Linked DNA regions of Homo sapiens: regions 2, 3, 4 and 5 are each linked to region 1. The links come from fine-mapping of genetic effects on gene expression. A gene starts in region 1. Each other region holds a variant in brackets. All regions are shown on one strand. Distances are between the middles of the regions. Region 1 holds the start of NECAB2 (N-terminal EF-hand calcium binding protein 2). Region 2 has its middle 6.1 kb from the start of SLC38A8. Region 3 overlaps SLC38A8 (solute carrier family 38 member 8). Region 4 overlaps NECAB2 (N-terminal EF-hand calcium binding protein 2). Region 5 overlaps NECAB2 (N-terminal EF-hand calcium binding protein 2).

Region 1 (4,121 bases):
AGGTAATACTCACTCTGACCCTTCCACCCTCTGTCCTCGCCTTGGGGTAAAGGACAGATGCCCTCGCCCCCCATCCCTCCAGGCAACGAGAAAGGGGGCACCCTTGGTCATTTCTAGGCACCTGGGCGGTGAGACTGAAGCACAGCTATGGGAGGGCCTCTCAAACATCACCCCTCCTCCTGGCTGAACCTCAGATCCCCAAGCCCTCCTCAAAGATCCAGCCTGGGCACCCCGCAGCCCCGTTCCTGACTGGGCAAGGCTCCTCAAAACTGGGGTCCCTATCTGGGTGTCCCAGATCCCCCTTGAGGCCAGGCACCAGGTAGGTGCCGGCTCTGGGCAGGAATGCTGAACACATGAGTGACATGGCAGGGCTGACACCTGGTAATGTCAGCCAGCTCCAGGAGTCTGCATGAGCACCTCCCGCCCCACCCCCCGCTCATCACTCCTTTTGGCAGGTGAGGAGATGGAACCTCAGAGCCCCCACCCTGACTGGGCAGGGCTTCCATGCAGGGCAGCTTGGGGCTGCAGGGCTCTGCCCAGGACTTTCAGTGGGAGCTCTGCGGGGGTCCTGAGGAGGGGATGGTTTGGCTGCATGGGTGTGTCTCTGGCTGTGTGTGCGTGCGTAAGCGAGTGCGTGAGTGTGTGAATGTGTGCCTGCGAGTGTGGCACTCTAGAGCTCCCCCTGCTCTGGCCGGCCCTCCCAGCCCAGACCCCGGCCAAGGGTTCCAGGAGCAGGGAAGAGGAGAGAGGAAGGGAGGGAATCCCCCGACTCACAGGGATCCGCGATACACGCGTGTGCACATTCACACACACCCACCACTCTCCCAGAAATCCACCACACAGGCAGAGGCAGCCCCCAGCCCCACCCCAGCAGGACCCTCGCTGAAACACGCAGTCAACATCCCCAGAAGCCTCCTCCACCTCCTCCTAGCACTCTCTGCTGGGAGAAGTCCTCCTCCTCCGAGCCGCCCCCTGAAGATTCCTCCCTCCCGGGTGGGGCGGGTGGGAGGGTGAGGTGGGCTTCCCAGAGATGGGTGATTTGGGTCCCAGGGGAGTTAGGAGGGGTGAGGGGTGAGTCTGGTCCATGAAGAGGACCCAGCTCTCTGTAGGGTAGAGGGGTGTGGGGAAGGGAACAGAGGACTTGGAATGGAAGGGGGCGGGGTGGGGAAGACCAGAGGGGTACCAGCTCAGGGCTGATGGGCGATGGCTCTGGCTCAATGGAAAGGAGACGAGAAGACAGAAGGTGGGGAGGGGGCTTCACTTTTAAAGTGGCAGTAGCTGGGGCAAAGGGTCTTTGAGCGTGAGATGAACGGGGGCTCAGGGTCTAGGGCGAAGAGAGGTGGGCTAGAGGTAGGGGTTGTTAGGGGTCTCAGAAAAGTATCGCTCCGGACAGGATCCGGGATGGAGAGGAGGAGGCGGCTGGACGCGGCGAGGGGCTCCGGTCCCGCGGGGTAAAGGGTGGGGGTTTGGCTTGGACAAAACTAGGGGGACAGTGGCCGGGTCCGGGGGCTCACGGCTCCCCACTGTGGGCAGGCAGGGACTCCGAGAAGCGCCGGTGGAGGGGCGGAGGAGGGGGGTCTCCCGGTCCAGGGAGAGGACTGGGCTGGAGACCGGCCTGGACGTGGCGGGGCTGGGGGCTCCCGCTCCGGCACGCGGAGGGGCCGGGGGTCTCCTGCCCGGGTAGGGAGGGCCTCGCGGGTCGCGGCGTCGGGGTCCGCCCGAGGGGCGGAGGGGGCTCCGGGTCCCAGCGGAGGCCACGGCGGGGGTCCCGGCCGGCGCGTACTCACGTCCAGGATGACGGCGGTGCCCCCGCGCGGCGAGGCTGGGCCGGGGTCCGCGGGGGCGGCGGGGGCCAGCGACTCCCGGGGCTCGCCCATCCTGGCGCCCACCCAGCGCAGCAGCCCGCCCAGCGCCCGGCCCTGCTGCGGCGGCTCCCGGAGCAGCCTGTGCGCGCCGGCCCTGCACAGGCGCGCCGCCCGCTCGCACATCGCGCCGCGCCCGCCGCCGCCGCCCGGAAGCCCGCCGACCCCCGCCCAGCTGCGGCCCGCCCCCGCGCGACCCCCTCCCCGCGCTGCCCGCGCCGCCCCGCCCTCTCTCCCGCTGCCCCCGCGGCCGCGGACACCGCGGGGACTGGCCGGCGCCGGGGGGCGGGCCGGCCGGACCCCGAGCCACGTGCCCGCTCCCCGCCGCCCCCACCCCCGCCGGCCGGGCGCGGGGCCTGAGGACTGCCCGCCGGGGCGAGGGGCGCGGGCGCAGCCACAGAGGGGGCTACCCGGAGGGGAGGGGTATGTGGGGCCTGGGGGCGGGGCGGCGCCCCTGGGGCCTGCTCCCCAAAAGTCTCCTGCTCTCCCCGCTTCTAAAGTCCCCCCTCCCACTCGCGGCGCGCAGCAGAGGCCGAAGCGCGGGTGTCCAGCGAGCCCGGAGCGCCCTCTGCCGGCTCCAGCCCCGGGGAGCGGCGCCCACGCCCCGCGGCCCCGTCACGCCCGCGGGCGCCCATCCTTAACTCCCGCGGGCGTGCACGCCCCCTCAGGCCGCCCCCTTGGTTACAAAACGCCCAGAACCAGTCTTCACCCCAGAACATCTTTCCTTCATACTCCATCCACCCATCCATCTATCCACCCACCCACCTGTCCGTCCATCCATCCATCCATCCATCCACCTGCCTACCCGTCCATCAATCCATCTATACATCCATCCACCCATCCTCCCATCCATCCATCCGGCCGGCCGACTGTCCGTCCATCCATCCACCCACCCTCCCAACCATTCATCCATCCATCCATCCACCCACCCAGCATCCTCCCATCCATCCATCCATTCACCCACCCACTCATCCTCCCTCCCTGGCATCCATCCATCCACCCTCCATCCATCCATCCATCCACCCTCCCATCCATCCATCCATCCATCCATCCATCCATCCATCCATCCGTCCATCCATCTGCCCGCCCGCCCATCTGTCTGTCCATCCACCCACCCACCCTCCCATCTATCCATCTATCCACCCCCCTACCCTCTCATCCATCCATCCATCCACCCACCTACACACCCTCCCATCCATCCACCCACCATCCTTCCATCCATCCATCTATCCTCCCTCCCTCCCATCCATCCATCCATCCTCCCTCCCATCCATCCACCCACCCACCCACCCCCCTCCCTCCCATCCATCCATCCATCCATCCACCCACCCACCATCCTCCCATCCATCCAACCATCCTCTCATCTATCCATCTGTCCACCCACCCACCCATCCTCCCATCCATCCATCCACCCATCCATTTAAAAGATGAATTAAGGAGAACCCACTAGGTGCCAGGCAGGTGCCCAACCACGGAGTTCCAGCAATGGGCAAAACAGATGGTGTACTTGGTCTCCCAGAGCTCCTGGAGCTTACATCCAAGTGGGCAGAGCCAAACACTGAAATGATTCCACAAACAAATGAACAATTAAAACTGAACTGCTGGAAGGGTGTGGTGGCTCATGCCTGTGATACCAACACTTTGGGGAGCCAAAGAGGGCGGATCACTTGAGGTCAGGAGTTCAAGACCAGCCTGGCCAACATGGTGAAACCCCGTCTCTATTAAAAATACAATAACTAGCTGGGCGAGGTGGCAGTCACCTGTAATCCCAGCTACTTGGGAGGCTGAGACAGGAGAATCATTTCAACCCAGAAGCAGAGGTTGTAGTGAACCAAGCGCCACAGCACTCCAGCCTGGGTGACAAAATGAGACTCTGTCTCAAAAAAAAGAAAAAAAAACTGCACTGCTATGAAAAGGTAGCACCTTAGACCATGAAAGGAGTATTTGCTGTGACGGCAGTGGAGGGGTTTGTGTCAGAAGAGGCTTCCTAGAGGAAGTGATTCTTATGCTGAGACATCCCAAGGAAAAGGAGTTAAAGAAAGGCGGGAAACTGTCCTGGGCTGGGGACTCTCTGTGCAAAGGCCTTGGGGCAGGCAGAGACCTGGCCAGCAGGAGGGACTGAAAGGAGGCCGCATGGCAGAACAGAGAGGAGGGAGGCCTGGGACAGGCTGCGGAGGGGGCGGGGCTGCAGCGCCCTCCTGGACATCACTGCCTGCACACACCCGCCACTCCCACCCCCAGACTCTAGTACAGCTGCCC
Region 2 (4,121 bases), 80 kb before region 1:
CATGCCGGCCTTGCAGCTCTCCTTACCCACATGCGGCCTTGCAGCTCTCCTTACCCACATGCGGCCTTGCAGCTCTCCTTACCCACATGCGGCCTTGCAGCTCTCCTTACCCACATGCGGCCTTGCAGCTCTCCTTACCCACATGCGGGCCTTGCTGCTCTCCTTACCCACATGGGGCCTTGCCGCTCTCCTTACCCACATGGGGGTCTTGCAGCTGTCCTTACGCACATGCGGGCCTTGCAGCTCTCCTTACCCACATGGGGCCTTGCAGCTCTCCTTACCCACATGCGGCCTTGCAGCTCTCCTTACCCACATGCGGGCCTTGCATGCTGTTGGCTCTGGAGCCTCTCGTCTCACAGGTCTCTACAGGTGCAGGCCACTCACCGTCTGGTGGTCAGGACCATAAAGGACAGGGTTATGTTAAAGGTTTTGCCTCAAACCAGAAGGCGAGGACCCTTTCTGTCCAGTTGCCGGAATGATGTCATGAGGAACTGTGTGCCCAGGCACGCTGTGCTAGTTACAACATGTGTTTTTGTTTCATTCCCCACACACTGTAAGGTGGGCATCACTGGGCCCATCACACAGGTGAAACAGAAGCCCGGGAATCACTCGTCCCCTTGCCCAGTCATACAACTAGTAGCCAAGGCAGAATTTGAACTCATGTTGCCCTCAGTCCCAAAACCTGTGTACTTAACCCTTGTTCTCTCCTGCTGGTGTCTGTGTGATGTCCCATGTCTGTCTGTCTCTCTCTAAAGGGACAGTGACACACCAGGAGGATACCCAGATGCTGGGGGGCCTTGGGACAGAGTCTGGGAGGATTGAGTGAAGGAGCAGGTGAGGGTGAGCCTGGAGAGAGAACGCCCTGGTGGAGAGTTTATGTAGAAAGGGGATTAGGTCTCCGGGAGGAACCGGATCCATGTGGTCTGCTGAGATGGCTGAGTCTGGCATTCAGATGTGCCACCCAACAGAAGAGGCCCTGGAGGGACGCCCCCTTTGCTGGGTGGCAGCCGTGGGATTCCGGGGTCTGCCTTGGAGGTCCTGGAGAGGATGTCGTGGCCCTGGCCCTAGACTCAAGCTGCCTGGGTCCAGTTCAGCCCGGCCACTCCTGCTGTGGGCCCTAGCCAGGGGCCTTCACTCCACCGACTGCTGTGTGTTTGGTACATGGTGTCACCCAGGCCATGTGCTTAGCCATGTGCCTGACAGCCAGCGCCGGTGTCAGCCATTACAGGGACACACGTGCCTGGAGGTTGAGGCCACGTTCTGTCACCTAGGCCCACTCGTGGTCCTGGGCTGGGCCAAACCCCCCTTCGAAAGGATTCCTTTTTGCCCCTGGCATAGGCTCTCATTGTCCTAGTGAACAGCTACATCTTTTTAACAAGCCAGAAAAGGCCAGCTGGCAGTGGCTCTGCCTGAAATCCCAAGACTGGCTGGCCGAAGCAGGAGGATCACTTGAGGCCAGCCTGGCCAAAGTAAGCAAGACTCTGTCTCTACAAAAAAATAACAAAAAACAAAAAAAAGACCAACCAGCCACAACCACAGATAACACCTGGGGTTCACAGGGGGCCTGGGGACCGTGAGAGGGGCCAGATGTCATCCTTTGCCCTGGCTCTCTCTAGAGACTCAGGCAGTGGCCCCGATTGCAGGAGCCTTTGAGATGAGATACAAATAGTGACTCCCCCTTTGGCCCCCTCCCCTGTATAGGACACTCAAGTCTAGATCTTTCTTTGCACACACACTTGTCTGTTCCGTGCAGAGCGTGCCCCACATATGATGGCTCCAAGGAGACCTCCCAGGAAAGCCACGCACAGTAGGTGAGCCTGGCCCACAGCGATGGTCCTGGGACCTGCTGAGCGGTCGTCTCTGTGCCTCAGGCCAATGGTTCATGGGCATGATCCCGCCCAGGGCTCTCGGAGCCATTTCTCAGGCGAAAACCCAGGTCTGGCCTGGGCCTGAGCTCTGAAGCCCTCACCGCCAGGCTGCCTGCCTCCCACGGCGGGCGGAGGGTGCTGCCTACTGGAAATAATGGGAGGGTTGACATAGATTTTGATTTCACAGGACACAAAATATAGAGTCAAGGATATGCAAAAGGGTTGTCTCCCATTTTATATACAGGTTAGATAGACATTTCTAGAGAAATATTGAAATTCTTCATTAAAAAAGTGGCTGGCACCACCGCCTTAATTGGATATTAACTCACGGAATAATGGTTTCATTTGCTGGTAACAAGAAGGCATTGCAGGTGAGTGTCCTAGAAATACAGATCCCTGGCCTCACCCCAGCTTGACTAGATCATCTGTTCCTTGGGAAGGGACTAGGAATCTCTTTTAAAAGCTCCCAAGAGCAAACA[A/G]CTGCTGGAACTGTGACCCAGCAGTCCCTAAGCCTATACGCAAGAGAACTGAAAACAAGGTGTTCAAACAAAAACCTCTGTGAAGTTCACACCTGCACTATTCACAGTAGCCAGAAGGCGGGGCCGGCCCACAGGTCTAGCAGTGATGGCCACATGGACAAAGGTGGCCTCTCCATGCCATTGAACACGGCCACAAAAAGAAACGAAGTTCTCACACATGCTCCCAAGTTGGGGAACCCCAGGAACATGCTGAGTAAAAGAAGCCAGACACAAAAGGCCATGTCATGTGTGATGAAGTCTCCACAGTAAACAAAGTTCACAAAAACAGGGAGTCGATTCGTGGTTGCCAGGAGCTAGGGGAAGGGATCTTCCTTTGGGGCTGTTGAAAATGTTCTGGAATTAGATAGTGGTGATACTGGCACAACATTGTGAGTACTTAAAGCCACTGGATTGCACACTTTAAAATGGTAAGCCCCAGAATGGAGTTTAAAAAAAGTGAATTTTATGTCATGTTAACTCTTAACACGCTCCCTCCACAGGAGATTCTTGTCAACAGGCGGCCCCCTTGGGAGCCCTGGCTTAGAACCTGGGAGAGGTTCTTGTGCCCTTCCGACTCCCAGTGTCAGTGTGAACCCAAGTGGTCAGAACCCCCTGGATGAAGACCCTGTGGGCTCAGCCCTGGCACCACGTCCTCCTCCCTGCCCTCTGCCCCCAGCCCTGTGTTGGCTGCTGACCACCCCCCGCAGCACCCCCAGTGTTTCCTCCATTGGACACAGTGGCAGGAGGAGAGTGAGCCTAAAGGATGCTTCCTTTCCCTCCCACAGTTCACCCCTTTACTGCTTTACCCAGAGCAGGTCTTCTGACTACAGCTCTGGAGAAGCAGCCCCCAGGCGGGGACCGCGGGATGTGACAAGGCCTGTGCCCTGTGGCTGTGTTCCTGAGGGATCCAGCCTCTGCTGCTGAGCCCAGGGGGAGCCCACCAGCCTGTCCTCTCAGAACTGCCCAAGGATCGGAATTCAGGATGCTGGTGTATGTGGGTCCTATTGCCACCTGGACAAACTACCACAAATTTAGTGGCTTAAAACATATATTGCGGTTCCAGAGGTTGGAAGTGCAAGTTCAGGCTCACTGGCCTAAAATCAAGGTGTTGGCAGGGCTGGTTCCTTCCTGAAGCCCTGGGTGAGAACCCATTTCCCTGCCTTTCCCAGCATCCGGTGGCCCCTCCTCCGTGTTCCACGCACACCCTTCTAGCCTCTGCTGCTGTCTCCACACCACTGTCTCCTCTCTGACCTCTGGCCCCTCCTGCATCCGTGTTAGAAGGACACTGATTACATATAGAGCACACCTGGATAGCTCAGGGTCCCCTCCCCACAAGGTCCCCGATCTCATCTGTGAAGCCCCTTTTGCCATGTGGGGTAACATACAAGGCCTGGAGGTTCCGATGAGGACATCTTTGAGGCCATCATTTCACCGACCACAAGCAGTTTCTCTATCCCTATGACATCCGTCTCCCATCCGAGGACTTTTGGTCCCTGGTAATTTCTGCAGGTGGGGCCCCTCCCACCATCTGAGAAGCTGGAGGCCGGCTCTGCTCCGACACACTGGGCTTGCTGCGCTGCTTACTAAGCAGCCTTCGTGGGCCAGGCCTAGGGCTGAGAGCTTCGGAGAAAGGAGGGGCTTCAGTCTCGGGGACAGCAGGGTCAGCGGGAGGCCCTAAGAACTGGGTGCTCTACTCTCACAGCACGGTAGACCCTCCTGGGGGAGCTTCGTAGAA
Region 3 (4,093 bases), 42 kb before region 1:
AACCTGCGAGCCACAGGAAGAGAGTCTCTGTCTACCCAGTATGAGGGCATCTGAGCCAGGATAGGAGCCCGGGCCAGTAACACCGGGTCCTCCAAGGGCCTTCCCTTCCACTCTGAGGGTCTGTGGTTGGGATTTCATGTAGATTCCAGCCTCTGGAAGCACCCAGTGGTGCATCTGTACCCTCCTTTGTTACCTGGCTCGGACCCAGGGCAGGATCAGGGTGCAGGCTGGGTTAGAAAGGCCCCATGGCCGGCCAGACACCATCATCACAGCAGTGGGTCGCTGTTCCCAGGCTCCTCTGCTAGGCACTGAGCTAGGTCCTTTTACATGTTCACCTCCCCACCATACCCACATGTCTTCATCCTACAGCTGAGGAGGCGGGCCCGGATGCTAGTGAGGACAGAGCTAGGATGCAACCCAGGCCCCTGGCTCCCAGGCCCCATGCTAACCCACCTGCCTGGCATACAATGCTGTTGAGACCAGATAATTTGGATCTTTCCTTCATTTGACAAATATTTATCCCCGAGCGGACCTGTGGATCAGACACGACTGAGCCTCTGTACTTTGCCACTGAGCAGCTGAGTCTGACCCACGGAAGAGGACGATGTACACGTGAATGATGTGCGCTTCCTCAGCCGCCCCTGGGTAGTCTGGGGTTCTGGGTGACTCCCTCCCATCCCATAGATGGGGAAACTGAGGCTGAGGCAGGTAAAGAGATGATGTATTAGTTTTATGGGGTTATTGTAACAAATTACCATAAATTGGGGCATGGTGGGGAGGCTTAAAGCAACAGAAATGAATTTTTTCCCCAGTTCTGGAGCCAGGAGTGTGAAATCAAGGTGTTGGCAGGGCTGGACTCTCTGAAGGCGCCTCAGCTTCTGGTGGCCCCAGGTGCTCCTTGGCCTGTGGCTACATCACTCCAGTCTCTGCCTTTATCATTATTTAGCTTTCTCCCTGTGTCTCTGCGTCTCAGAAATCCCTCTGCTTTTATTTATTTTAGTTTTTGAGACAGAGTCTTGCTCTGTTGCTCCGGCTGGAGTGCAGTGGCGTAATTGTGGCTCACTACAGCCTCAACCCCCTGGGCTCAAGCAATCCTCCTGCCTCAGCCTCCTGAGTAGCTGGGACCACAGACGCCCACCATCACACCTGGCTGCCTTTCTTTTATAAGGATACCTACCATCAGATTAGGGTCCACCCTAAATCTAGGTTGTATCTTCTCTCAAGATCTTTTCCTTAATTACATCTGCAAAACCCAGTTTCCAGATAAGCTGGCAAGCACAGGTTCCAGGTAGACATGAATTTTGGGGGCCACCCTTCACCCCATCCCAGATAATGTTAAATGGCAGCAATCGTGAATTTGGGTGCCAGCTGTAGGTCTGTTCCCCTATACCCCCGGCCCTCTAGCCCCATTGAGCCCAAGCTTGGTTTTTGCAAAGGAGCAGGCCTGGCCCGGTTTCTTCTGGATTTGAGAGCAGTGTTTCTGGATGTTTCTAAACCTGCCTTGGGTATTGAACCAGCCTCCCAATGTCTGGTAACCCCCTAAGCCGCTCATTCCCTGGGATGCTTTTCGGAGTCTTCATGCTTTTTGTTTTGTTCCTTGATCTGAGCTCACAACAGTTTTTACTGATGAGCTTTCAAGATATTTTTATCGTTAAAACTGCTTTGGGTCCTTCTAATACATCAGCGCTGCTCCAGGAGTGCCACAGCCCACAGGCACATTAGCCTCACAGTCCCCGCACAGATGAATGGATGTTTATGGCGCTGAACAGCCGTGCTGAGATGCTGCTCGGTTAGAAATGTTCCTTCCATGACAACCCGGCCTTCTGGTCTTTGTTAATGGGGCCACAAATATCTCTGGTGGCCCTGCCATTTTGTGGGAATCTTGTTATCGCTCTGACCTCCTTGTCTACCCCATCTCTGGTTACAT[G/T]ACGAAGCTCACAAATGTGGCCTCGGTGGCTGCCAGTCCCAGCCACCTCTGCCTCCTGCGTCCTCGTCCCCTACCCCTCTGAGATCGTGTGTGACTTAGAGCTTGCGTCTTCTCCTTCATTTTCATGGGATTTCATCAGAGGCTGAGGAACAGAAAGGGAGGGTGGGGGGACTTTTCAAAGTAGTGTCTCCCTTCTCTCCATGTCTTTTTCTCTTTTTGAGATGGAGTCTTGCTCTGTCCTCCAGGCTGGAGTGCAGTGGTGCAATCTTGGCTCACTGCGACCTCTGCCTCCCGGGTTCAAGCAATTCTGCCTCAGCCTCCCACATAGCTGGGAATACAGGTGCCTGCCACCGTGCCTGGCTAATTTTTTATTTTTATTTTTAGTAGAGATGGGGTTTCACCATGTTGGCCAGGCTGGTCTTGAATTCATGACCTCAGGTGAATCCGCCTGCCTCAGCCTCCCAAAGTGCTGGGATTATAGGCTTGTGCCACCATGCCTGGCCCCCATGTCTTTTTATTTGATAAAATACTGGGGAGGAATGAGCTTATGACATAACAGGTGGGATCGGAGGGCTTTTAAAAACTGCTTGCGGCCAGCAACGGTGGCTTGCGCTTGTAATCCCAGTACTTTAGGAAGCTGAGGAGGGCGAATCACTTGAGGTCAGGAGTTCAAGACCAGCCTAGCAAACATGATGAAACTCCATCTCTACTAAAAATACAAAAATTGGCCTCGTGTCATCGTGTGTGTCTGTAGTCCCAGTTACTTGGGAGGCTGAGGCAGGAGAATTGCTTGAACCCGGGAGGTGGAGGCTGCAGTGAGCCGAGATCGTGCCACTGCACTCCAGCCTAGGCAACAGAATGAGACTCCACCTCAAAAAAAAAAAAAAAAAAAAATTGCCTGGGTACTTTGCTTCCCATTGTCTTGGAAACCCATCCCTACAGGTAACTGGAAATATTCTGAATTTTTCTTTTTTCCAAATTGATGACTCCATACTGGGCTCTACATAGTGAATTTTTTATGTGTGTGTGGCTTATTTGTGCAAAAATCCAGAAAAGCTCTGACATGGGTTTATTCACTTGGCAGGTGCTGCCTGGAGGTCTGGGGAGTGGTCTCTGTGCTGGTCGGCACCTTCATCTTTGGGCAGAGCACGGCGGCAGCGGTCTGGGAGATGTTCTGATGGGCAGCTAGTGCCGGGCAGGAAGGGGCCCTCCGGGGGCTGACCCTACGTGGCTGCTGTATGCAGCCAGGAGACCGATGCCATTTCTTTTCCTCATAAAGATGCTGGAGAGACTGATGCCTTCTGCCTCCTTGGGCTGCTCATGGGGCTATGCGGGTTCGAAGGGTTTCTGGTACAAAGGTGAGGAAAGTTCTTATGGCCGCTGTGATAAATGACCATAACCGCACTCTGGTGGCTTAAAACAACAGATGCTTGTTGCATCACAGTTCTGGAGGCCAGGAGTCTGAAATCACGTGTCATTAGGGCCATGCTCCCTCTGTGGGCTCTAGGGGAGGCTCCCTCCTGTCTTCCCAGTTCTAGGGGTGGCCGGCACTCCTTGGCTTGTGGCTGCCTCACTCCAGTGTCTGCTCTTGTCTTCATGTGACTCTCCCCTGTGTATCCTCTGTGTCCAAATCTCTCTCTTAAAAAGATACCCATCACTAAGTGAGCTCCTCCCACCTCCGTAAGTAGTGTGATCTCATCATAAGTTGCCTGCATCTTGTATTAATTAGGACCCACAAAGATGCAATTTCCAAATAAGGTTATGTTCACAGGTTCCGGGGGTTCAACCTCAACTGATGTTTCTGGGAGACAAGATTCAATCCATAAAAGGGAGCTAGGGGCTGAGGCCCAGATAATTGGCTTTGGAGTGTCAGGATCAAGGGTGTCAGGTAAGGATACTGCACAGCAATGGGAAGCCCAGAAGGGAGTGGGAGGAGGCATGGCTGGCGATGGTGATGGACTCAAATGGTCCTTTGGCCAGGGCGCAGGAAATGCCCGAATCCTGCCCTTGGCTGTGACAGGCCCAAGGAGGTGTATGCCCGGAACACGCCACACCGCCATGCACTTGGCCCATGCCCCGTGGAGGGTGGATGACTCCAAGGAAACTGTGCTTTCCCTCCCACCAGCTGGACTCAAAGAGCCTGGAAGCCAAGTGGACTGTTGGCTC
Region 4 (4,121 bases), 23 kb before region 1:
ACACCCCTCTCCTGTGCATACTCATGTGCATACACACCCCTGCGTGCCCTGACAGGCACAGCTAGCCACAGGCAGAGGCAGACACACACACACACACACACACACACACACACACACACACACACACACAGCTCACCTTGCACTGTGTCCAGCACATAGTAGGGACTCAAAAATGCTCAATGAATGACCAAATCCTCCCATGCAAAAGGATGCTGAAAAGCTCCTGGCAGACATACAGAAACACAGACACTCCCCCAGAAGACACACAGAGTGCCCTGTGCACGGCCCCAACACCCGCTTGGTCTCTGTGCATCGCGGTCTTGGTGCATTCTGGAATTTGTCTCTTGTGAACCTTGAACACTCCGCCAGGCTCTCCCCCTTGCGGAGGGAGCAAACTCGACTCCCGCCTTGGGAGGGGAGAGGCTGGCAGAGTCTTTATGGTGTCAATCATGGCTTCTCTATAAACCAGCAGGAAATTAAATGTATCCCTCAGACCATGACGGGTTGCTCAGGGCTCCCGGGTGGTGGGGTCTGAGCCAGTAGCCTGTGCTAGAGGTGACATCCTGGGAGACTGTCCTGGGGCTGGGAAACAGGATAGTCCTCAGGGACCCACAGCCTAGAGCCAAACTAGCTGAGATTTGGGGAAGTTCGAGGGAGGGGCATGTGTGGAACAGAGGTATCACGACAAGCTGCCCCGTCTGACAACATCCCCAAGTAAGGTCCCCACCATGGGGGCAGGTGGGTGTAACTGCTGACGCGTGATGGAGCTGACCCAGTGTGGGAAGTCTGCCCTGAAAACTGCGCAGCCATACTATCTGTTCTGCGGCAGGAGAAAAACAGCAAGTTTTTCATCAAGATAGTAACAGGAAAACCCAGGAAATCTAAGTGTCAGCTTTTTTCACAGCGATGGCTGCTAATTCTGGGGCACCCAAGAATCACAAGACTGACCACATGTGCAGAGTTCTGGGCTCCAGTCCAGGGATTCTAGCCAGTGAGTATGGCCAGGAGCCCAGGAATGTGTATTTTAATTTTCCCAGGTGATTCAGCGCAAATGCTCAGATCAAACTCATTTGGGAAACAGTGTCTCAGAGTTACCTTCACAATCATGTCTGATCAGGACCAGCTCTTCAACTACGAAGAAACACACGATCAAACCCCAGTCCCCCAGCAAACCAATATCCTGGTCCTGAGGTACCTCTCTGCCTGGAAAATTAAGGGCTCAATCGAGCTTGGGTGCCGACACCTGGCTGTTTCCCTCATCTGTTTGCATTTTCTCTTTTTCTTCTGTGTCAAGCACATCAGCTGTTCTGGGAAGAACTGAGCAAAGAAGGGTTTTTCTCAATTTGAAACAGCAAATGGAGGTGGGCGGGGGGACGGGTGCTCGTGTTCCCCGGGAGATGGGACTGCTGAGCCACGAGAATGTCGCTCCTCTCTAAATACCAGGTCACACCCCTAACACAGCAGCCACCACCTAGGATGGGACCCCAGATGCATTCCCATGGTTCCAAGCACACAAACAAGGCCTAACACAAGACCAGAAAGAAACACTCCTCTTTCACGTCTCTTTCAGTCCTCCTGAGAAACTCTCAACTTGCTACTACTGTCTTCAACACCTCTCTGATTTCCC[CCCA/A]GTCTCTCTTTTTAACAGAGAGGTGGCAAGCCTCAGGATTCAAGCTGGATCGTAAACAATGACAGGTGCTTATTTTTACAGTTACTTCACTTACGGCATGTGATGCCGAGAGTGCAGTTATAACCATATGCCATTTCCTAAACTGCTTTCTAATTTTCAAAAGTGGGCTGGGGTGTGGTGGCTCCTGCCTGTAATCCCAGCCCTTTGGAAGACTGAGACAGCAGGATTGCTGAGACCAGGAGTTTGAGAACAGCCTGGCCAACATGGCGAGACCCCGTCTCTACAAAAAAAAAAAAAAAAAAAATAGCTGGGTGTGGGTGGGACTACATGCCTGTAGTCCCAGCTCCTTGGGAGGCTGAGGTGGGAGAATTGCTTGAACCTGAGTTGGAGATTGCAGTGAGCCACAATGGTGCCACTGTACTCCAGCCTGGGGGACACAGCAAGATTCTGTGTCAATAAATAAAATAAGGCCGGGCTCCATGGCTCAAGCCTGCAATCCCAGCACCTGGAGGCTGAGGCGGGTGGATCACCCTAAAGACCAGCCTGGCCAACATGGTGAAACCCCATCTCTACTAAAAATACAAAAATTAGCTGGGTGTGCTGGTGGGCATCTGTAATCCCAGCTACTAGGGAGGCTGAGGCAGGAGAATCGCTTGAACCTGGGAGGCGGACGTTGCAGTGAGCTGAGATCTCGCCACTGCACTCCAGCCTGGGTGACAGAGCAAGACTCGATCTCAAAAAAAAAAAAAAAAGAAAAGAAAAGAAAAGGAAATAGAAAAAGAAAAAAGAACGAATGAGAGAAAGAGAGAAAGAAAGAGAGAGAGAGAAAGAGAAAATAGGCTAGCTGTGGTGGCTCACACCTTTCATCCCAGCACTTTGGGAGGCTAAGGCAGGTGGATCACGTGAGGCCAGGAGTTCAAGACCAGCCTGGCCAACATGACAAAACCCCGTCTCTACTAAAAATACAAAAATCAGCCAGGCATGGTGTTACACACCTGCAGTCCCAGCCACTCAGGAGGCTGAGGCATGAGAATTGCTTGAACCCAGGGAGGGAGAGGTTGTAGTGAGCCAAAATCACGCCACTGCACTCCTGGGCGACAGAGCGACACTTTTTGTCTAAAACAAAAAAATAAATAAATAAATAAAACGTGGGCCAAACAACAGAATAGTTCTGCATAAACAATTAGCATGTGGATGCAGCAAAACAAATTAGAGTCTGGGAAATGGTGTCTTCACTGTATTAATAAATATGTACACCAGGCATTCTCCTGAGCATTTACTATCTCATTCAATCCTTGCAATGGCTGAGATTTTAGGTATATAATTGTGCCTATATTACATAATGGAGCACCAAAGGCACAAAGAGCTGTGGCAACTTGCCCAAGGTCACCCAGCTCTTAGGTACACAGACATCCCCACCAAGCAGCAGGTGGGCACGTGCGCGTGCACGGCATACCCCCATGGGACCCTGCAGGGTCTCAGAGACTCACCGGAGCTGGCTGGTCTGTTCCTCGATGGCCTCCACCGCACTCTCCACTGAGCTCAGCAGCGACTGGATCTGATTGGCCGTCTCCTTCAGGAGGAAGCGGGTCACAAACTGGTCCACGTTGCTCCCACCCTCATATACCTGTGGAAGGAAGAGAAGAGGCACTGAGGGGAAAGGGGTGGGAGGGAAATTGGAGGTGGGGTCTAGCACAGGAGTTGGGGGAAAGCTGGTGCTGGTGAATTTGCTTTGCAAAGGGAAGGGAGGACCCCACGGCCTCCTGGGGTCCAGTCTTAGAGGCTGTAGCATTTCCAACGCAGAGGCTAGAGGTTTAGAGACCAAATTTGAACCCTGGCTTCACCACTTACTAGCTCTGTGACCTCCCAGAGTATAATGGGGTCACTGAAGCATCTATCTTACAAGGTTGTAGCGAAGATTAAACAGCAACATGCGTGTACAATGCTCTGCACAGGGCCTGCCACACAGCAAAGACTCAATCAACAGTAGGTGCTACAATATAGATGACGGTGATGGTGGCAGTGATAGTGACTGGTAGTTTTGTTGTTGCTGTGACAAGGATAATGATCAGGCAAGAAGAATCCACGACCTTCCCTCCCTCCTTCCTCCTGCAAGGAGGATTCCTAGGGCTCCTGGATCTCCAGGCTGCTACTAAGGAAAATGACAAAACGGAATCAAAAGCAGCTGAAGGGAGGAAAGTGCCCGGGGCTTAGTAATCAAAAGGAGGTGGCCAGAGAGGAGCCTGGGGGGAAATCAGAGAGGGAGTCTTAGCGGAACTCTGGGGAAAAGACGAAAAAGAAAGTTTTTTCCAAGTTTTGCTCTGTGGTGTGGAACAGAATTTCCACCTCTGTCCTGAGATTCTGCAAGGACATTTCTCAAGGCTTTTGGATCCAGTGGAGATGCTTTGGGCTGCAAAGACTTTACAGCAGAAGGGAGAAAGCTCTGCTTACCCACGTCGCTCAAGGACGGGATGATGAAAATGATGCTGTG
Region 5 (4,121 bases), 33 kb before region 1:
ATGTGATTTATGGTGGGGTGTTGAGCCATGAGGTGTCAGCGTGTATGCGTCACCGAACCCCAGTAAGACTCAGGACTGCATCCCTGATTGGTGATGCTCTATCAGCATTGAAGCTGGGAGGGTTCAGTGCTATGGGCCTTTACTGGTAGCCCCGTGCCTGGCCCCCCACTCCGGGAGCCTCTTTCTTTGCTGGATTTTGTCTGTCTGTCTGTCATCTACCTACCTTGACCGTGACTTTGACAGTTGTGCCCAGTCCTTTGAATTACTGACCTGAGGGTAGGTGTGGTGCTGAGCTCCTGAATAGGCATGAGCCTAGTTCCCAAATACCGCATAGAGTGACCACCACCATTTCATGGTTCAGAAAACTGAGGCTGGGAGCACTTGAAGGGTCCCTGGCCCCCTGCTGTTGTCAACCAGGAAACAGACACAGAGCACACAGCTCTTCCCAACCAGGGTTTATTTGGCGCCTGGGCACAGTGGTGGCTACCTGGCTAGGTTGGGCACTACAGGGGCATGACTCCTACTAGGTAGAAGAATGTCACCGAAGAGGGCAGGGTGTGGTCAGTGTGGGTCATGCGTGGCCATGTGAGGGGTAGGGGAGAGGCCAGGACCAGGAGGCAGGGGTGCTGGCTCCAGGAAGCCGCCCCCTTCAACCTTGGGCTTCACCAGGACCTGGCAGCACAGACACTGCTCTGCCTTCTCAGGTGGGGGCAGGGGCGGCCTCCTTCACTTAACAACAGGGAAACACCTTCTTGTGGAGGATGGATTGAAAAGAAGCTTCTGCACCAAAGTGTCTGTCTAGAAAAAAACGGGATTTCCTTCACAAGAAGAAGGGGCTGGTGGGCTCCTCCACGGGCCTCTGGGAGGCTGTCAGTCCCGTCCCACCGTGCACCAAGCAGCTAAAAGGAGAGAGACACGTTAGAGGGAAGGAGTGCGAATGTGGGCAGCCTCGTAGCTGGTGGTGGTCGTCTTGAATGACAGGTCGGGGGATGGCTTTGAGTCCTTGTGTGACACACAGGTCCTTGCTGGTCACCCAGGTGCAAACCACACACCTGGGAAGGGAAATTCAGTCTGGCTGGAAGTAGGGGGCCGTGGAGGGGGTGCTCTGGTGCAAGCTCTGGCAGGCATACCTGTATGTGGGGCCACCTCAGGGCTGGCTCTGAGCCTGGCATTGGTGGCAGGAGCTGACAGTGGGCCCACAGCAAGCAGGCAAGTCCCCGGGAGATATGGGGCAGCCTCTAGGCTCTTGCCCTTCTCTCCAGTCAGGTGGCCACTGCAGTTCCAGGCCTTTGCCCCCTACCTGGCACCAAGATCCTGGAGAGGGCCTCAGGCTGGCTCAGTGTGTCCACCTTGACGTGCCGGAACGCCTTACACAGGGGGCTCTGCAGGTGCCTGTGACGCAGGGACATGTGTGAGTCAGGGGTGGCAGGAGTGGAGCTCCGCGTGTGGCTCCCCTGTTAATCCTAGCTCTAGCCCAAAATGGGGAGCTTATCAATAAGCACGGGGGGTCTTTGGACTCAGAGCCTTTGTGGGAAGGTGAGGGGGTGCCCAGGGAGGCTGACTCTGGGGTGGGCAGTGAGCTTCTCTTTTTCCCTGTGAGCTATAAATGGGCAGCGGGATCCCCCCACTCATTGCACAGAGCCTCTACCTCCCCCTTTACCCTAGCAGGAGGAGTGGGGCCATCCTCTGCCTGGGACCCATGACAACACAGAAGCTGCGAAGGCTTTTAGTCCCTCGTTTTATGAGTCACTGAAGTACGGACAGGGAGGGGACACTCTCACTTCTCATGACCGCCCCTGTTCCCACTGGGGTCCTGAGTTTGTCAGCAAACCGTGAGTGTTTACCAGGGAAGCAGGAGATGGGGGCATGGGCTACCCCTAGGCCCCGCTTCCTGCCTGTGGGGTCTGGCGCATCAGCAATAGTCTCCACCCTCTCCCAGATGTGTGCTGAGCAGAGGACAAAGGCCTAAGGCCCATCAGAGCTGCTGACACCCTACCCCATCTCCGTCCCTCGTACCGGGCACTCAGCTGGAGGGGAGGTTAGTCGCTGGAACAATTGATCACATGGGGACTGAGTCACCTTCTAGGTTAGGCCCTCAACTCTACAGGGTGGTAAAGAAGGCAGTGCCTCGGCCCCCAGGGCTGTTCCAGGAGGACAAGGTGCTCTAGGGGCACAGAAGCAACCCTGGGGAAAGCAGGAAAGCCCAGCTGAGTGTGGTGGGGGCTCTCACTACCCACCAAGAGCTCCTGCCTCCACCAGGGTTTACTGACGCAAGCATGCCAGCGGGTAGATGCCTCGGGAATCTGCTGACTGGACTCGGC[C/A]TTACCCTCCCCTCCAAGGATGCCTGGCTCCAGGAAGACAGCCCCCCCACTTCCCTCTGTCTCCCTCACCTGCTGTGGGGACCCAGCATCTCACCTCTTCCACGCCTCCTCTGTCTCCCAGAACTCATAGATGACAAAGGTGAAGCCATCTGAGAGCCTCACGGCAGTGATGCTGCAACAGGAGATGGTCGGGGGGAGGAGGCTGGAGCTCAACCAAGGCCACCTCAGTGCTGTTCCCCTGGGGTGGCCTGAGACCCACCACTATACACAACGGCTGCCTTCAATGTTTCTTCCTGTCTTGACCTCCATCGAGACTCGACAGGGTGACCCCAGCACAGGGAATAAGGCCTGGCTTCTTATAGTGGCCAACAGCTATTTATTAAATAGAATCAATGCAGTGTAGTTTTTCTTTTGAGATAGGGTCTCACTCTGTTGCCCAGGCTGGAGTGCAGTGGCACAATCACTTCAGCCTTCCAAGTAGCGGGGACTAGAGGAGTGCACCACTCGGCCTAATTCAAAAACTGTCCCAATAGAGATGGGGTCTTGCTATGTTCCCCATGCTGGTCTTTAACTCCTGGGCTCAGGCTGTCTTCTCACCTTGGCTTCCCAAAGTGCCAGGATTGCAAACTTCAGCCACTGTGCCCAGCTGAAATGTCATGTTAAAGTGTGAACATTTATTTAAACAAAACCAGGTGGCTGGATGTGATGGTTCACGCCTGTAATCGCAGAACTTTGGGAAGTCTTGAGGGGTCGAGGCAGGTGGATTACGTGAGGTCAGGAGTTCAAGACCAGCCTAGCCAACATGGCAAAACACTGTCTCTTTAAAAAAAAAAAAAATAAAACTTGCTGGGCCTGGTGGCACATCCCTGTAATCCCAGCGATGCAGGACACTGAGGCATGAGACTCATTTAAACCCTCTGGTGAGAGGTTGCAGTGAGCTGAGCTTCCACTACTACACACTCACTCCTGCCTGGACAATAAAGCAAGATTTGGTCTCAAAAAACCTTTAAAAATCAAAAAACCTTTAAAAATCAAAGCATCTTCCCTCTTCTTCCTTCTACTTGTCCTCTCATTTAATCCTTGCAACACCCCCACTGCACTGTACCTGACCTGACCAAAGGAGGCTGAGGGGAGGGGGTGCTGGGCCACAGAGGAAGGGGCTGCAGGCAAGTCCCCCATTGCTCTATGGGACCCAGGGGCCCGCACTCACGTCATTTTAAAGGTGCTGATAGTCTATGCCGCCCCAGAATCCTCTCTGCAAGTGCACTACAATGAGGAAGCCCCAAGTGACCATAAAGCGGGGGCCAAAAGCTGGGGAGGAGGGGCTACAGTGCTCAGCCTAGAGGAAGGGGCCGGGCTGGATTCCATCTTGGGGTGGACACACCTCCGTGCAGCTTTAGGTGCACCATGCCTGGGAAGTAGAATCTCACCTGGCTCTCCAGGCTTGCCGTCTCCAACTCGACAAACCAGAGCCTCTACGTCCACCGTGCCTCCTCTCCACAGCGCATCGGGGTGGCCCTACTTCACCCTGGAGCCTCCCACTTATTCACGTAATGGAAAAAGATCAAGTCTGGCCCCTGCTCCTGTGCAGTCTGTCCTCCTGGAGTGGAGTGGGTCCTGCCCCCCCATCCTGGCTACTTACTCAAGAATGGCCCCTCGTGGCCACGCCGAGTCTCGGGAACGGCCGCACTCCTGCCCAGGCTACTCCTCCCCTCGTGCTACAGGTCAGGCTGTTGTCACTCAAGCCTCAGTGCACAGGGGGCCCAAGAAGACCCCTCTCAAAGACCCTGTGCTAGGACC

What was found. PIP is the estimated chance that this variant, and not a neighbour inherited with it, causes the effect. A credible set is the group of variants that fine-mapping cannot tell apart.
Region 2: its variant is the best candidate, but not a certain one, in a credible set for the expression of NECAB2 in left ventricle (GTEx, PIP 0.67).
Region 3: its variant is the best candidate, but not a certain one, in a credible set for the expression of NECAB2 in sigmoid colon (GTEx, PIP 0.56).
Region 4: its variant is fine-mapped to the expression of NECAB2 in blood mononuclear cells (TOPMed, PIP above 0.99).
Region 5: its variant is the best candidate, but not a certain one, in a credible set for the expression of NECAB2 in whole blood (INTERVAL, PIP 0.66).

Annotation. Positions count from the first base shown.
Region 1 is chr16:83,966,516-83,970,636 of GRCh38, reverse strand. NECAB2 (N-terminal EF-hand calcium binding protein 2) reads right to left here and starts at 2,393. Exons shown (of 13, transcript NM_019065.3): 1 at 1,788-2,393. The coding sequence starts at 1,988. RefSeq lists a silencer at 2,328-2,517.
Region 2 is chr16:84,046,850-84,050,970 of GRCh38, reverse strand. No RefSeq gene overlaps it. Among named protein-coding and RNA genes, the nearest start is that of SLC38A8, 6.1 kb to the right of the region's middle. RefSeq lists an enhancer at 1,544-2,428. The variant A/G (reference allele first, on the strand shown) is at 2,348.
Region 3 is chr16:84,008,796-84,012,888 of GRCh38, reverse strand. It overlaps SLC38A8 (solute carrier family 38 member 8), which reads left to right. Exons shown (of 11, transcript NM_001080442.3): 11 at 3,012-3,222. The coding sequence ends at 3,105. Among named protein-coding and RNA genes, the nearest start is that of SLC38A8, 32 kb to the left of the region's middle. The variant G/T (reference allele first, on the strand shown) is at 1,928.
Region 4 is chr16:83,989,630-83,993,750 of GRCh38, reverse strand. It overlaps NECAB2 (N-terminal EF-hand calcium binding protein 2), which reads right to left. Exons shown (of 13, transcript NM_019065.3): 6 at 3,121-3,257. Among named protein-coding and RNA genes, the nearest start is that of NECAB2, 23 kb to the right of the region's middle. The variant CCCA/A (reference allele first, on the strand shown) is at 1,628.
Region 5 is chr16:83,999,096-84,003,216 of GRCh38, reverse strand. NECAB2 (N-terminal EF-hand calcium binding protein 2) reads right to left here. Exons shown (of 13, transcript NM_019065.3): 11 at 2,416-2,493; 12 at 1,301-1,392; 13 at 441-899. The coding sequence ends at 871. Among named protein-coding and RNA genes, the nearest start is that of NECAB2, 33 kb to the right of the region's middle. RefSeq lists an enhancer at 111-893. The variant C/A (reference allele first, on the strand shown) is at 2,322.